Linked DNA regions of Homo sapiens: region 1 is linked to region 2. The links come from fine-mapping of genetic effects on gene expression. Tissue or cell type: whole blood. Region 2 holds a variant in brackets; the other region holds the start of a gene. All regions are shown on one strand. Distances are between the middles of the regions.

Region 1 (6,310 bases), 48 kb before region 2:
AATATTTTTAGCTTTTTTTTCTTTTTAGACACCAACCGCTTGCCAGGCACCAGGCCAGTCACTTTACATTATCTCCTTCTTATGTACATGATTTAATCCACATAATCCTTTCAGGCTGAGATTATTAATCCCATTTTACAGATAAGGAAACTGAGGCGCACAACGTTTAAATAATTTGCGCAAAGTCCCACAACCAGCAGACCTCAGATCCTGCAAGAGACTGGGGTGTTTGGCAGAGCCTGAATCCAAGCTACTTGCAATATACCAGCCGGAGCCTCTCCCTCCCTGGGCCCTAGAAAACGTTTGTGCTACTTGGCTGAGGCCGACGCTGCTTGAGCTGAGAAAGAAAAGAAGGAAAATGTGGCCAGGAGCTTCCCAGGCTGGGTTATTCCAAGGTCGCAGAGTAGCCTGTGCCCATCTCTTCTCGCTCCCTGTGAGATAACCTGGCTGCACAGGATCAGCCTGTGGCCTCCTTAACACAGGTTCCCGGGTAATGGGAAAAAAAAAATCCACTGAGTGTTTTCTATGAGCCAGGCACCATTGAGAGCTCTTTTCCTGTGTCAACCCGTTTTATCCTCACCACATGCCCCATGAGGTGGGTACAGTACATTTTCCTTTAAGTACCTTTGATGTATCACTGTCTGCATTTTATAGAGGAGGAAACTGAGGCCCAGAGAGGTTAAATCATGATAATTCTTAAGGCAACTGGTGAAAAATCAATCAGCAAACCGGTTCAAATCCCTGGGGCACTATTTTTTGCTGGGACACCTTAGACAAGTTAATTTCTCAGGGACTTCCTCAATTTACCCCTCTATAAAATGGAGATAATATTTAGTGAATGGGATCAGGTACGATTCGGGCACCTTTACAAACACTGCAAGAACTGGAAACTGGAGGAACAATGCTGGGTCCTCAAAGTTGAGCGGGAAGATAAGTCCAGTTGGCCTTGTCCCAAAGTGGGGACTTCCCCTCCGCCAAGGAACTAAGACTTGTAGGGGCCACACTGGGTAGCGCCAGCCACAGTTGGGAGAACAATACTCCAGCAGTCAGACTGAGGCAGGAAGTGACTCACGCTTCTTCCTTAGGCTGTGAGCAAGAGAACTCCATTGAGGGGAAACAGGGACAGGGCTGGCCCCACCTACCCACTTGTCCTCAGGCCTAGAAGAAAGGTCAGCCCAGAAAAATAGCAATACTTGCTGCTTCAGGTGCCCCACCCATCCTGGAGACTGGCCCCAGGGGAGCCCGCAGTGGGTCTTTGGAGGGGGAGGGGCTAGCCTAGGCTCAGATGACTGCCACCCAGGCAGAGGCGGTGGGAAGTGGAGCTTCCCAGTTTCTTCCAGCCAGCTTGCCTCTTCAATCTGCATAAGGCAAAATTCTTTAAAGTGGGTTCTCAGAGGTGCCTCCCTGAGAGGGAGGAATGAGGACAGGATTGGGCAGTTGAGCACCTCTCTCTGCTTCACCCAGAGTGTCTCACATTTTAGGGTTTCACATGAGATTGTATTTTACAACAATTCTGCTGCTAAAAAGAATTTGAAAGCCACTCTCTGTGAGACTTCTCTGGAAAAAAATCCCATTTGACCACAACTGGTGACTTCTGCCTTTATCTCATTGCAACAAGTCCTGTGGGCAGGTATTGTTCTCTTTATCACTCTCAACTGGCCCTGGAGCCCAGGTCTCCTGACCTGGGGCCCTAGGGGCCCAAGGTCCTCTGGATCCCACCTTACCAGTTTTACACAGCAGTTAGCAGGACTTGGGCATGTGACAGAAGTCTGGAGATGAGTGAGAGGAGCAGGGCCTGATGGGTAAGTGGGGGCTGTAAAGGGGCTCCATTTTCCCAGCAGGGCTCTGGGAGGAAGAGTCCAGCTAGGCCTCTCTTTATCCTTGATTTGGGGCTAATCCAGAGAGGCTCCTGAGAATCACATAGTCCTAAATCCACCCAGTCATCCTGACTCCAAGCACTCCTGTTGTCTCCTTGGGGTGCTCTGGGAGTCTTCTCTGAAATCTCTGGTCCACCTCAGGCACAGCAAATAAAGCCTTCGGCAGCAGCACCCACACCTAGTTGTAAGCAGAATGTCTACACAACATTCAGACGTGCATAGAAGGGTGCACAACAAAATTCCATTGGTGTTCTCTCCGAATGAAAGGGTCACATTTGCGATCTTTGTTTTCTTCTTTTTGCCTACCTGCATTTTTCAGGAATGTCTACAAGAACTCCTAAAATAATTAAACCTTTAAGTCAATGCAAAATCGAATAAAGCATGTCCATACTTCACCATCCAGCTCCAGAGCACCTGGGATTCATCCTGGCCGCTGCTGCTTCCCCGCCACTCACTGCAGCTGCAACAGTCAGGCTCCTATCCCTTCACAGGGCGGGGCCCTTCCAGTTCTGGCTAAACCACTTTGGGAAAACCTTCTTTATATGACAGGCAAACAGGGTGTCTGTGGGTGGGGGGAGGAGCTAAAAGTGATGTGGTGGTGACATATCTGGTCGCACTGGAACTGGATCCTAACATGGCCAGCCAGCCCTTCTCATTTTCCTCATTTATTGGGGTGGGTCTGCACTTACCTTCTGCCTGGCTTTGCTGCATCCCAGCCACTGGCTGACTTAATGACTTCCTTCCGCCAGCTCCAGCTCCTTGTGTTCTGCCTTGCCTTCCATGGCCAGCCAGTGCTGCCACAATTATGTACCTAATAAATGCTTTGGGTGCAGTCTCGCCTGGCAGACATTCATTGAGCAGCTGCTGAACGCTGGGCTCTGGTGCCCCATAGCTGGGTCCCTTAGAGCTTGTCCATAGGAAGCCAGAGACCACCTCTCTAGTAGGGTTGCATGGAGGTACCTGGGACACACCAGGGTCTTCCTCAGTCTGCGACCTCCCTGGCCTTCCAGCTTCAACAAGCCTGCTGCCCATCCTTCTCTCTCTCGATTCAGAAATGTGAATCACTCAATCCTCATAGTTTTTTTTGTTTGTTTGTTTTATGGGTTTGTTTTTTTTTTTTCTAGACAAGAGTCTCGCTCTGTTGCCCAGGCTGGAATGCAATGGCCTGATCACAGCTCACTGCAACCTCTGCCTTCTGGGTTCAGGCGATTCTCATGCTTCAGCCTCCCAAGTAGCTGGGATTACAGGCTTACGCCACTCGTATTTTTTTTTTTTTTTTTTGTATTTTTAGTAGAGATGGGGTTTTGCCATGTTGGCCAGGCTGGTCTCGCACTCCTGACCTTAAGTGATACACCCACCTCGGCCTCCCTAAGTGCTGGGATTATTAGGCGTGAGCCACCACGCCCGGTCCCCTTGTTGAGTTTTCAATCAGTTTGTCATCCTGAACAGGGTTTCTCAACCTTGGCATTATCAACATCTTGGGTCGGATAATTCTCTGTAGGGGACACTGCACTCTACATTGCAGGATGTTCAGTCGCATCCCTAGTCACTAAACATTAGCTGCTAGTAGCATTCCCGCTCCCATGATGACAACCAAAAAGATCTCCAGGTATTGCCAAATGTCCCTTGGGAGACAAAAATCTCTCCCAGCAAAGAACCACTGTCGCAGAATGAGGAGTGGGAACGTCACAGGATGGTGGTTAGTGTGCCAGGGTTCGAGGCAGCAAGAGTTGTCTGCTGGGAACTAAGCTCTGAGACAGCTAGCAGTGAGGGAGAAAACTCCCAAACTTGAAACTGCCCAGTATGCCAGCACAACAATGGGCCGTTTAGTGATCAGGGCAAACAATCATGCATCCTCATGACATCTGAGATCACTTTCCATCGTGTTGGTGATAATGCTGAATCAAGGAAAGGATCAATCATGTTGATCATACTCCATTTTCTAAGGTGGGGAGGTGTGTGAGCCCTTGTAGCATTAAAGACGTATTTGGAAAACAGATCAGTGCTTGCTTGGGGAAGGGGGCAGGGAGGGGCGGGAGGAAACTTTTGGGAATGATGGACATGTTCATTATCTTGATTGTGGTGATGGTTTCATGGGTGTGTCCATATATCAAAACATATCAAGTTGTACACTTTAAATCCATGCCGTTTATAGTGTGTCAGTTATACCTCAGCAAAGCTGTTTTGAAGATGTGTTGTTTAAAGTTTTAGTGCTTGAAGGGCATTATTTTGAAAATTCACTACTGTGGAGTAGTCCATTTCTTTGCTGAATAAATAAGGGGTCACTGTAGTACTTAAAAAGAAAACAGGAAGAAAAAACAAACAGAAGAAGAAGAAGAAAAGCGATCATGGGCTGTAAGGTCGTCCTAGGCAGGGAAGGAAAGGAATGGCGTGAAGAGTTGGCTCAGTCGCCCCTGAGTGTGGCCCGGAGAGCCTGTCCTCTGGCCTACGGCAGGCCCCAGAGAGTCTTTCCGTTGACTGATGCCATCAAATCAACATGTCTGGAACGGTATTATCAGGGACTTGGGAAAAATAGAATGACAAATGTGCTGGCTGCCAGGAAAGGAACAGATGAGTCTGGAAATTATAGGCTCCTCCACAAACTTTAATCCCTAAAACAAACATTGCTGGGGAAAAAGTCAGTTAATACCTGGAGGAGTGTGAGTGCTGTCCTTCAATGGGGCACGGCACACCTGGGAGCAGAGAGCATTTACAGAAGCCAGACACCGTGTGCCAACCTGTGTCAACAGGCTCATGCTCAAGGGGCTGCACGTGGCAGCAGGGAGCACTGCGAGCGGCAGTGAGGGGCCCTCTCTGACGGTGCAGATGCTTTTTGGCTGATGGAGACCTCTACGGAGGTTCTCAGGAGCCCCTCAGCGAGGCGGGTGAGCAAGGAGAGGGGCTGTGATAGCGATGAGTTATATGTGAAAAGAAAAACTGCTTTTGTGGAGGTTGATTGTGCACTGGGCATTTCATTCACTCATTCCTCAGATACTCATTGAGTGCCTGCTGGGTGCAGGACCTCTTCCAGTGCTTCAGTTATAGCGAGGGAAGCAGGCAGTTCACAGGTGAATAAGCCAGTTTATGAGAGAAGTTCAGATCATCCTAAGAGCTCTGGAAGAAAATGATAAAGAAGGTAATGTGGGAGTGCCTGGGGAAGCGGGAGGGCTGCTATCCCTGGGGTGGTCAGGGAAGACCTCTGGGAGGAGGTGATGTTTGAGCTGAGGCTGAAAAAAGAGGCAAAAGTGTAAAGATCTGGAGGAAGAGTGTCCCAGGCAGAGGGAGAGGCAAGGACATGGGCCTGGGGGCATGAGCTTATGCACTTGGGGAGCAGACACTTCTTGGAGCATGGCCGAGAGATGAGATGAGAGGTAGGTAACGGGCTGGATCACAGAGCACTTGCCAAGCTGGGTCCAGATGTTGAATTTAATTATCAGAGCAATGGGCTCTGGATTCTCAAAATTCTTTTGGAAATTTGACTGATTTACCCTTTAATAAAAATTATTTATTTATTTATTTAGAGATGGAGTCTTGCTCTGTCGTCCAGGCTGGAGTGCAGTGGCGCAATCTCGGCTCACTGCAACCTCCACCTCCCTGGCTCAAGCAATTCCCCTGCCTCAGCCTCCCGAGTAGCTGGGATTACAGGCACACACCACCACACCCGGCTAATTTTTTTGTATTTTTAGTAGAGACAGGGTTTCACCATGTTGGCCAGACTGGTCTCGAACTCCTGACCTCAGTCAGTCCACCTGCCTCAGCCTCCCAAAGTGCTGGGATTACAGGCGTGAGCCACCGCGCCCAGCCATTTTATTTTTATATTTTTAAATTTAATTTAAAAGATGGGCTCTCACTCTGTTGCCCAGACTGGCCTCAAGCAATCCTCCTGCCTCCCCCTCCAGAGGTGCTGGGATTACAGGCGTGAGCCACCGTGCCCGGCAAATTTACCCTTTTTAAAGGCTCCTCTGACTACCATGGGGAGTAGAGATATGGGGGTTCGTGTGGGAACCCACCACAGCCCGACGCAGGAGGCACCATAGGTGACCCTCCTGATGTGAAATGTAGGGGACTGGCTTGGGGGAGTCCAGTGACTTTTTTTTTTTTTGAGACAGTGTCACTCTTGTCACCCAGGCTGGAGTGCAGTGGTGCGGTCTCAGCTCACTGCAGCCTCTGCCTCAGCCTCCCCGAGTAGCTGGGATTAGAGGCATGTGCTACCACGCCCAGCTAATTTTTTGTATTTTTAGTAGAGACGGGTTTTCATTTGCTACGTTGGCCAGGCTGGTCTCAAACTCCTGACTTCAAGTGAACCACCTGCCTCGGCCTCCCAGAGTGCTGGGATTACAGGTGTGAGTCACCGCCTTGAGTGACTCTATAAGCGCCCAGCCCCTGAATGACTTACAAACCAGTGAGCAGGTGGTAGGCTCCTGCGCAGGCCT
Region 2 (8,242 bases):
ACCCAGGCTTAAGTGCAGTATCACTGTCTCTGCTCACTGCAACCTCTACCCCGGCAGGATTCAAGCAATTCTCCTGCCTCAGCCTCCCGAGTAGCTGGGATTACAGGTGCGTGCCACCACTCCCAGCTAATTTTTGTATTTTTGGTAGAGACGGGGTTTCACCATCTTGGCCAGGCTGGTCTTGAACTCCTGACCTCATGATCCACCTGCCTTGACCTTCCAAAGTGCTGGGATTAGAGGCGTGAGCCACCGTGCCTGGCCACAGTAATTGTCAGTTACCTGCAGGTCGTGTCGGCTCCAGGTTTTCCACATTGTGCCTGCACTGAATAAAAGCAAGCAGCTCCAGCTTCTTGGGGCTGCTCTCTGGCCACTTGAGCCAGGCAGTCACCCAGCTGCTCTTATGCTGTATGCCTGTGTCTGAGAACTCATTTCATCCGTTGGCCAGGGTCTATGAGACAGATCTGGCACCACCCCACAGTATAGTGCTGTTATGAGCTCCCTGAGGCACAGAGAAGTTAAATAACTTGCTCAAGGGCTGAAGGTCACACAGCAGGTGGTAAAAGTGGCCTTTGACCCCAAGCAATCTGACTCCAGGGCCATTCAATAGTCTAAGAAATTGCAGGCCTGGCATGGTGGCTCATGCTTGTAATCCCAGCACTTTGGGATGCTGAGGCGGGCAGATCACCTGAGGTGAGGAGTTCAAGACCAGCCTGGCCAACATGGTGAAACTCTGTCGCTACTAAAAATACAAAAATTAGCTGGGCGTGGTGGCTGGCACCTGTAGTCCCAGCTACTTGGAAGGCTGAGGTACATGAATCGCTTGAACCCAGGAGGCAGGGGTTGCAGTGAGCCAAGGTCGCGCCATTGCACTCCAGCCTGGGTGACAGAGCGAAAGCCTGTCTCCAAAAAAAAAAAAAAAAAAAAAGAATGGAAAGGAAATTGGTAGGTGAGGCTGTCCCCCATCCTGTTCTGGGACTTGAATCTGTTCCCCGCTCAGGCCACTGGATCCTGCTGGGGCCCAGGCAAGAAAAGCGGGCTCTAGACCAACCCTGCAATTGCATTTTTCTAGAAAGCCTTCATCACACGTTGCAGCTTAAGGTCCCAGTCTAGGGGTTCTCAACGGACTGTATCTTGAAGTGGCATTTGCCTGGCCCGGCAGGGAGACAGGACTCTGTTCTCAGGCAGATTTGGGTGGTAACATGACCTCATTTGACTCCCAGGCTGGCAGGGCCTGGGAAATATCAGTTTATGCTTGTTTCCAGAGTTTTAAAGGAGGTTTCCTTTGCCTCTCATACACTGCAAAATGCCTGCTTGGAGTGATGCTTTGCTACTTGCTTCCTGGTTGCCGAGTCTCCCTTTAAGTTCTGAGTCTCTCTCTAAGAGGCCCTTTGGTGTTGGAAGGGGCTTAGAACCCTGGCTTTGTCATGAGTCCCTTTCCTGAAAACAGCTCCCGTGCAAGGCTGTTCCACTTCCACATTCTCAAACACCCTCCCTCCCACAGATCCCCAGCCCACCCCGACAGTCTTGTCCAACTTGAGGATGGAGGTGACAGCCATCACGGAGTCTAATGCCCTCACTTTTTTTTTTTGAGACAGGGTCTCACTCTGTTGCCCAAGCTGGCGTGCAGTGGTATGGTCATGGCTTACGGCTCACAGCAGCCTCAACTTCCCCAGGCTCAAGAGATCCTCCTGCCTCAGCCTCCTGAGTAGCTGGGACTATAGAAGCACATTACCAGCTGGGCTAATTTTTAAATTTTTTTGTAGAGACCGGGGTCTTGCTATGTTGCCCAGGCTGGTGTCAGACTCCTAGGCTCAGGTGATCCTCCCACCTTGGCCTCCCAAAGTGCTGAGATTACAGGTGTGAGCCACTGCACCCTACTCCCTCACTTTTGCAGATGGGAAACCAAGGATGAAGGAGAGGAGAATGCCTTGCCCAAGACCTCAGTGCTAAAATTCTCGGCAGCTGTGGTTTGTATTCACCTGGGGCTGGCAGCATCGGGACCACCAGGAGACCCGGTGGAAATGCACACCTCTGGGGCGCACTCCAGACTTGCTGCATCGGAAGCCATGGCACAACCAGCTCTCCAGGTGACTGAGGCTAACACAAGTTTGAGAACTACTGCCCTGGCCCTTGCTTTCTCGGCTGGGACTGACGTTCTGCACAGGTAGGACCCAGTGACAAACTTTCACCTCCCAACTGCTCCATGTACCTTGGTCCCCACAAAAGCCTTCCTCACACACAAGTAAACTCCAGAAACAAAGGATAGGAAAGAGCTAGAAGCAGACACTGGTGGTTATGAACATCTTCACATGATAGACAATGCAGCTCCAAAGTGAGGAAAACTGGCTTGCTATTTCAGCACAAACAAGACGCCAACCAGCCAAAAACATTGGTACACAAGCAAAAGAAAACCTAGGCCAGGCACGGTGGCTCACACCTGTAATCCCAGCACTTGGGGAGGCCGAGGCGGGTGGATCACCTGAGAGGTCAGGAGTTCAAGACCAGCCTGGCCAACATGGTGAAAACCCATCTCTACTAAAAATACAAAAAATTAGCCGGGTGTGGTGGCCCGCGCCTGTAGTCCCAGCTACTCGAGAGGCTGAGGCAGGAGAATTGCTTGAACCCAGGAGGCGGGGGTTGCAGTGAGCCAGAATCCCACCATTGCACTCCAGCTTGGGCCACAGAGCAAGACTATCTCAAACAACAACAACAGCAACGAAAATAAAAAACAGAAAGGAAAAGAAAACCTAGGCTGGGCATGGTGACTCCCGTCTGTAATCCCAGCACTTTGGGAGGCTGAGGCGGGCAGATCACCTGAGGTGGGGAGTGTGAGACCAGCCTGGCCCCCATGGTGAAACCCTGTCTCTACTAAAAATACAAAAATTAGCCAGATGTGGTGGTGCACGCCTGTAATCCCAGCTACCTGGCAGGAGAATCACTTGAACCCAGGAGGCGGAGGTTGCAGTGAGCCAAGATCATGCCACCACGCCACTGCATTCTGGCCTGGGTGACAGAGTGAGACTCTGTCTCAAAAAAAAAAAAAAAAAAGAAGAAAATCTAAGTGAAAACTGCTGAAGCCAGCTGGAAAGCGGCTTCTGTTTGTCCAGATGAAGCCAGCAGAAGTAACAAGGGAGCCTTCAGTGACCTGGGGCTCCGTCCCCACTGCCTGGTGCTGGCCGTGGGGCTGCAGGATTTTAAGGCCCTGCCAGCCTGAGGCCCCGTCTCCTCCTCCTATCTTATCCTCCCATGAGAAGGCAATGAGACAGATGTCTTCGCAGCGCCCCTTCACCCACTCACCCGCCCATCCGCTCATCTATCCATCCAACAAGCTGTTATTAGGCACCGGCTGTGTGCCAAGTCCCTGGGGCTGGAACCCAGATCTGGGGCAAAGGTACAGACCCTAAGCTGAGGCCTGTGGAGGGAGTGGCAGGCCCTGTGGGGCAGGGGTCCTGGCAGGTGTGCTGGGGTCATCCCCATTGTGCCGCTCGCTGGGCTGGGGCTCATACAGCCAGGTGGCCCAGCCTAGAGTGTGCATATCCTCACAGTGAGGCGGTGGCCAGGCTGGCACAGGGCACTTTCTGCTCAGGAAAGGGGTCCCGCGGGTGGGTGCTGTGTCCTTTCTGCTCTTCCTAGGTGAGGAGGGACCACAAAGGAGAGCACAGGGTGGCTTCAGCGGGGGTGGCTGGACACTGGGATGGTCAGCCTGGAGGTCACTTGGCCGTTTCAGCCTCCTGGGCACCCTCCCCAACTCCTGCTGGCCCAGGTGCCCTGGGGTCTTCACCCTCACCCCACTTACTCCAACACTGCTCTCTCCTTCCCCCGGGGCGTTTCCCTCCCTGCCTGTGCCCTGGTTGAAGGCTGAACCATGCCTGGAGCTCTGCTCTGGTTAAGAAATGTTTGTGGAATATCTGACCAAAAGGATGCTGCAGCAGCCCCGGAGGCCAGGACCAAGTGGCATGTTGATGGTGCAGATGAGACACTGGGACTCTGAGAGGCCACAGAACTTGCCAAGGGCACTCCATGGCTGAGGAAGGGGCCAGGTCCCGCCCATTCCAGACTGGCTCTCACTGGGTGCAAGGGACCTGGTGGCGACGGTGGCCGCACGGGTCTCTGTCCTTATATGCACATCCAGCCATGCAGGCGGGTGTCTGTGGTGGGGCTGGCGTGGGCTGACCTCCGATCTCCCTGGTGCTGACTGCTGAGTTCATCTTTGAGGTTAGCAGTGTTAACTGCCTCCCTGTCACAGCGTCTCAACGCTCCCACAGTGGTGGGGGCCACAGCGCAGGGGGCCACCCCTCTCTGAGCCCGAGCAGGGCTCTGGGCAGAAGTCCAGGAGTCTCTCAGTGTCTCTGATGTCCTTCCTTCTAGGCGGGGGTTTCAGATCTGGTAGTGGTGGCTCTTCAGACCCTTACTCCGCATCAGCAGTTCCCGGGGCACCATTGCCACCTCCCACCCCAAGAGTCCCTGCTCCAGGTTCTATCCTACCAAGGAAAGTCTTCCCTACAGGAAGCAGGGACCTGAGCTCTCTGCTCCACTCCTGGCCCAGGCATAGTGCCAGGGCCTGACCTTCATGGGGCCTTGTGGCTCCTGGCAGGGACTGAGTAGATGGGGCCAGGACAGGCAGATGCCTGTGGCCTGTGTGTGTGACAGGCCCTGTGTGTGGGACCCATGGGGACAGACAGGCTCTCTGGGGTGAACTCCCACATCCTGAATAGATCTGAGCCTAGAGACCATCAGAGTGCCATCCTGGCACCTTCCCAGGCGTCACCGAACCCTCTGTGGGGCCGTGGATCCCGGCACCTTCCCAGGCGTCACCGAACCCTCTGTGGGGCCGTGGAACCCGGCACCTTCCCAGGCGTCACCGAACCCTCTGTGGGGCCGTGGATCCCGGCACCTTCCCAGGCGTCACCGAACCCTCTGTGGGGCCGTGGAACCCGGCACCTTCCCAGGCGTCACCGAACCCTCTGTGGGGCCGTGGAACCACACAGTTGAGGTGTGGCGATGCCAAAACCTCGACCTTGACCTTGGCTAGCTGCAGGGACAGCCTCAGGCCTGTGCGGGGACGCCTCACCATGGCTGGGGCTTTCTGGACTCTACTTCGGGCTTCTGTCTACCTTCTTGTCCTGTCCTTCTTCCCAGTGGTGACCCTGTGGGGCAGGGTACACAGCCCACCCCAACCAGGGAGGGTTTTCTCCCTTCCTCCTTCGTCTCCTGCCAACAGGGAGCGTGGGCCAGCCGAGAAGCCTTTCCGAGAAGCAGAGTGAGTGCGTTTTGGAAAGCAGGAGCCTACTGCATGCCGAGGGGCTTGTCCCCGAAGTCCTGGGTCTGCCCTGCACAGCTGCAGAGTTGAGCCCCTGCCTCCTAGTGGTTGCTGCACTCATGAACTGGAGCACCTAGCAGGGTCTGGGCCAGGCTCGGG[G/T]CCCCTGGGTGCGCCCCACCAGCTGGCTTCTCTGAGCCCTGGCTTTGAGGACACACGGGGCTGTGCCAGCTGCACGGAGGGAGAAGTGGCTGCTGGAGCCCCTGGGGATTCCTCCCCAGCTGCCACAGAAGACCCATCGCCCATTGTCTCTGCCCAGAGGCCTCTGCCAGCGGCGGGTCCCAGGCTGGGGGAGGTTGACAGCTGCTGCCTGCTGCTCCCCACCCAGGCAGCAGCTCCCAGCCAGAGAAAGAGCCGGGCTGGGACTCTGGGAGCCTCCAAAGGACAGGGTGGGCCTCGGGGCCTCAGAGCAGTTCCAGACGGCTGCAGGAGTGGGAGAAGCAGCAGTTTCTCAAGAAGAGCGAGAAGGCTTGGACCACAGCCTCCGCTTCCTCTTCTGGAGAAAAGCCACAGCTCAGCGATGCTGGCTGATAATTCTGCAGCCTCTGTCCCTGGAGCCTGCAGCAGAGGCTGGGAGTTTCGAACAGGTGACAGCAGGTGGCCCCTGAGGCTCTGGGTGGAAAGCGGGGTTGGGAGAAGAGGTTGGATAGTTCAGGGAAAGAGCTCAGATTCTTGATGCCACTGAACTTGTTGTCTGAACTGGAGCACTTTTGAGAATGAAAATAAACTGTGTTAATTATCACACCAGGACAATGGATGTAAACTGGGACTCCAGGGCAAATCGAGATGTGTGTTACCCTACTTACTACCACCTCCCAGCTGCGTGGATTTGGGCAAGTTACATAACCTCTCTGAATTCTGGTTTCTGCATAAAAAAGGCCAACATCATGTGCCTGCCTCCCAGGGCTGCGGGAGGGATGGAAGAAGTGAATTACCTGAGTTCCCAAAACAGCCCTTGGCATGGAGCCGGTGGGGTGAGGGGCTCTCCGTGCTTGTTCTTTTCCTCTGAGAGTAGTGGGTTCTCTGTCCCTGGAGGTGAGCAAGGGCCTGCCTGCCAGCGTTCTGTAGTGTGAGGGCCTCAGCAGGGCATATGTGCAGCTACAGAGCCAGATTCCAATCCTGCCTGTGCCCTCCAGAAGGATGGCAAGTGAGTGTGGGAGAGTCAGGCCTTCGTGTACCTAGGGGAGGATGGGCCCGTGATGGGTCCCAGGCTGGCACTCCTTGGTGGACTTGTGCCCTCTCCTATCCCAGGTGGTGGCGATTTGTGCCATGGAGGGCCACCAGCAGGGCCCAGCCCAGAGCAGCTTTGCTGTATCATGGACCGGTCTTTGGCTTCAAAGCCTTGGCATCAGTTCAGGGAAAGTTTGCCTGCTCCTGCCCTCCTGGGGTTGCGCTGGGCGAATGCAGAGCTTCCCTGGGGGTCTGAGAGGACTGGAAGATGAGCTGGAGGAAGGAGGCCGCTTGCATTTTCTGTGCCTGCTCCCGGGTCCTGAGAAACTGAGCAGAGCCTGTTCCAACCTAGAATGTTTTCAAGAGTTGGGTGTGGGGCCTGGCTCTGCCACCTGTGGTCATTTGAGCTTAGGCAAATCAGAGGTCTCTAGGCCTCAGGTTCCTTGCTGGGAGGCAGGGGTGGGTCAACCTATCATCTTCCCAGGACATGGGGAAGGGCTGTAGGTAGTGTGGGCCCCACATGGCTCTGCTCTCCACCTTCAGGCCCCATGCACGTTATTTTCATCTGTTCCCCCACAGCCCTGGGAGCTCCTGGAGGCACAGCCTGCGACCCTGAGGGATAAGCTCCATCTCCAGAAGGAACGAGTGGATGAGGTCAGAGCCCAGCAGTGACCTGTCTGTGCCAGAGTCCACCCCCACCACCAAGGCCAGAGCTGCTGCAGCAGGTGGAACGGACATGCCTCCTGCCAGATGCCTTGGCTGGATCAGCAACTCTCCAAGGTGGCCTCATGCTGGGGACATTACCCCAGGGGTATCAACTTCTGGCTACTTTGTCTCCTTTCCACTTCTCATGCACAGAGAAGGTTCTTCTGGCCAGAAGGATGACCTCTGAAAATGTCAGATCCGGAACGCATCCGTGCTAATGGCACTCAGCCCTCAGCAAACTCGCCTGGCCAGTCCCCCCCATTAAACACGGAGCCAAAAGCCCACAGGCGGCAGTTGGGGCTCACAGGCAGCCGAGGAGGCAGGAAGTCAGTGTGCTACCACAAGGGTGGGTCCTCAGGGTGGGTGCAGGGTCCCTCTCAGGACTGAGTCCCCAGGCAGAGGCCACACGGCTTCCCATCAACCCCCTCTTCACACCTTTGGCTTTGGCACAGGCAGGGTCTCCCCAGCTACACTCTCCTGAGTAACGTCACAGGTAACACCACACAAAGGGCAGGCCGAGGTGTGTGTTTTGTCTTATGCCACTTCCTCGCTGTGTGGCACCCAGACAAAGGTGACCTACAGCTGAGAAACGCATGTCTCCGAAAATGGGGCCACTGGAGTTCAGGCAAGAGAGGCCAAAATCCTACCAAAGATGCTGGGGCCAATTGGCCCATTATGGAGCATCCTGAAAAACGAGGCCACCACAATACCAAAGGACTACAGCAACTGCCACACACGTCCACCCAAACAATCTGCCAATCTTTCTCGCTGACCCCAAATACTGGGATATTATCCAGTGTTGATAATTTGTAGGCAAAAGAATGGTCTCACATGGTTTTATCATATTTTTATTCATGGAGATTGACCTTTTTCACATATTTGCAGAGCATGTATATTTCTTTTTTTTTTTTTTTTTTTGAGACGGAGTCTTGCTCTGTCACCCAGGCTGGAGTGCAGTGGCACGATCTCGGCTCACTGCAACCTCCGCCTCCTGGGTTCAAGCGATTCTCTTGCCTCAGCCTCCTGAGTAGCTGGGACTACAGGCGTGCC

Evidence for each region. PIP is the estimated chance that this variant, and not a neighbour inherited with it, causes the effect.
Region 1: it holds the start of FURIN, and the variant in region 2 is fine-mapped to the expression of FURIN in whole blood (TOPMed, PIP above 0.99).

Annotation. Positions count from the first base shown.
Region 1 is chr15:90,864,670-90,870,979 of GRCh38, reverse strand. It overlaps FURIN (furin, paired basic amino acid cleaving enzyme), which reads right to left and starts at 2,392. Exons shown (of 16, transcript NM_002569.4): 1 at 2,269-2,392. RefSeq lists enhancers at 927-1,221, 1,159-1,268, 1,007-1,301, 1,369-1,418, 661-1,860.
Region 2 is chr15:90,815,949-90,824,190 of GRCh38, reverse strand. BLM (BLM RecQ like helicase) reads right to left here. Exons shown (of 22, transcript NM_000057.4): 22 at 8,025-8,242. Among named protein-coding and RNA genes, the nearest start is that of FURIN, 49 kb to the left of the region's middle. RefSeq lists enhancers at 6,129-6,958, 6,959-7,790. The variant G/T (reference allele first, on the strand shown) is at 5,420.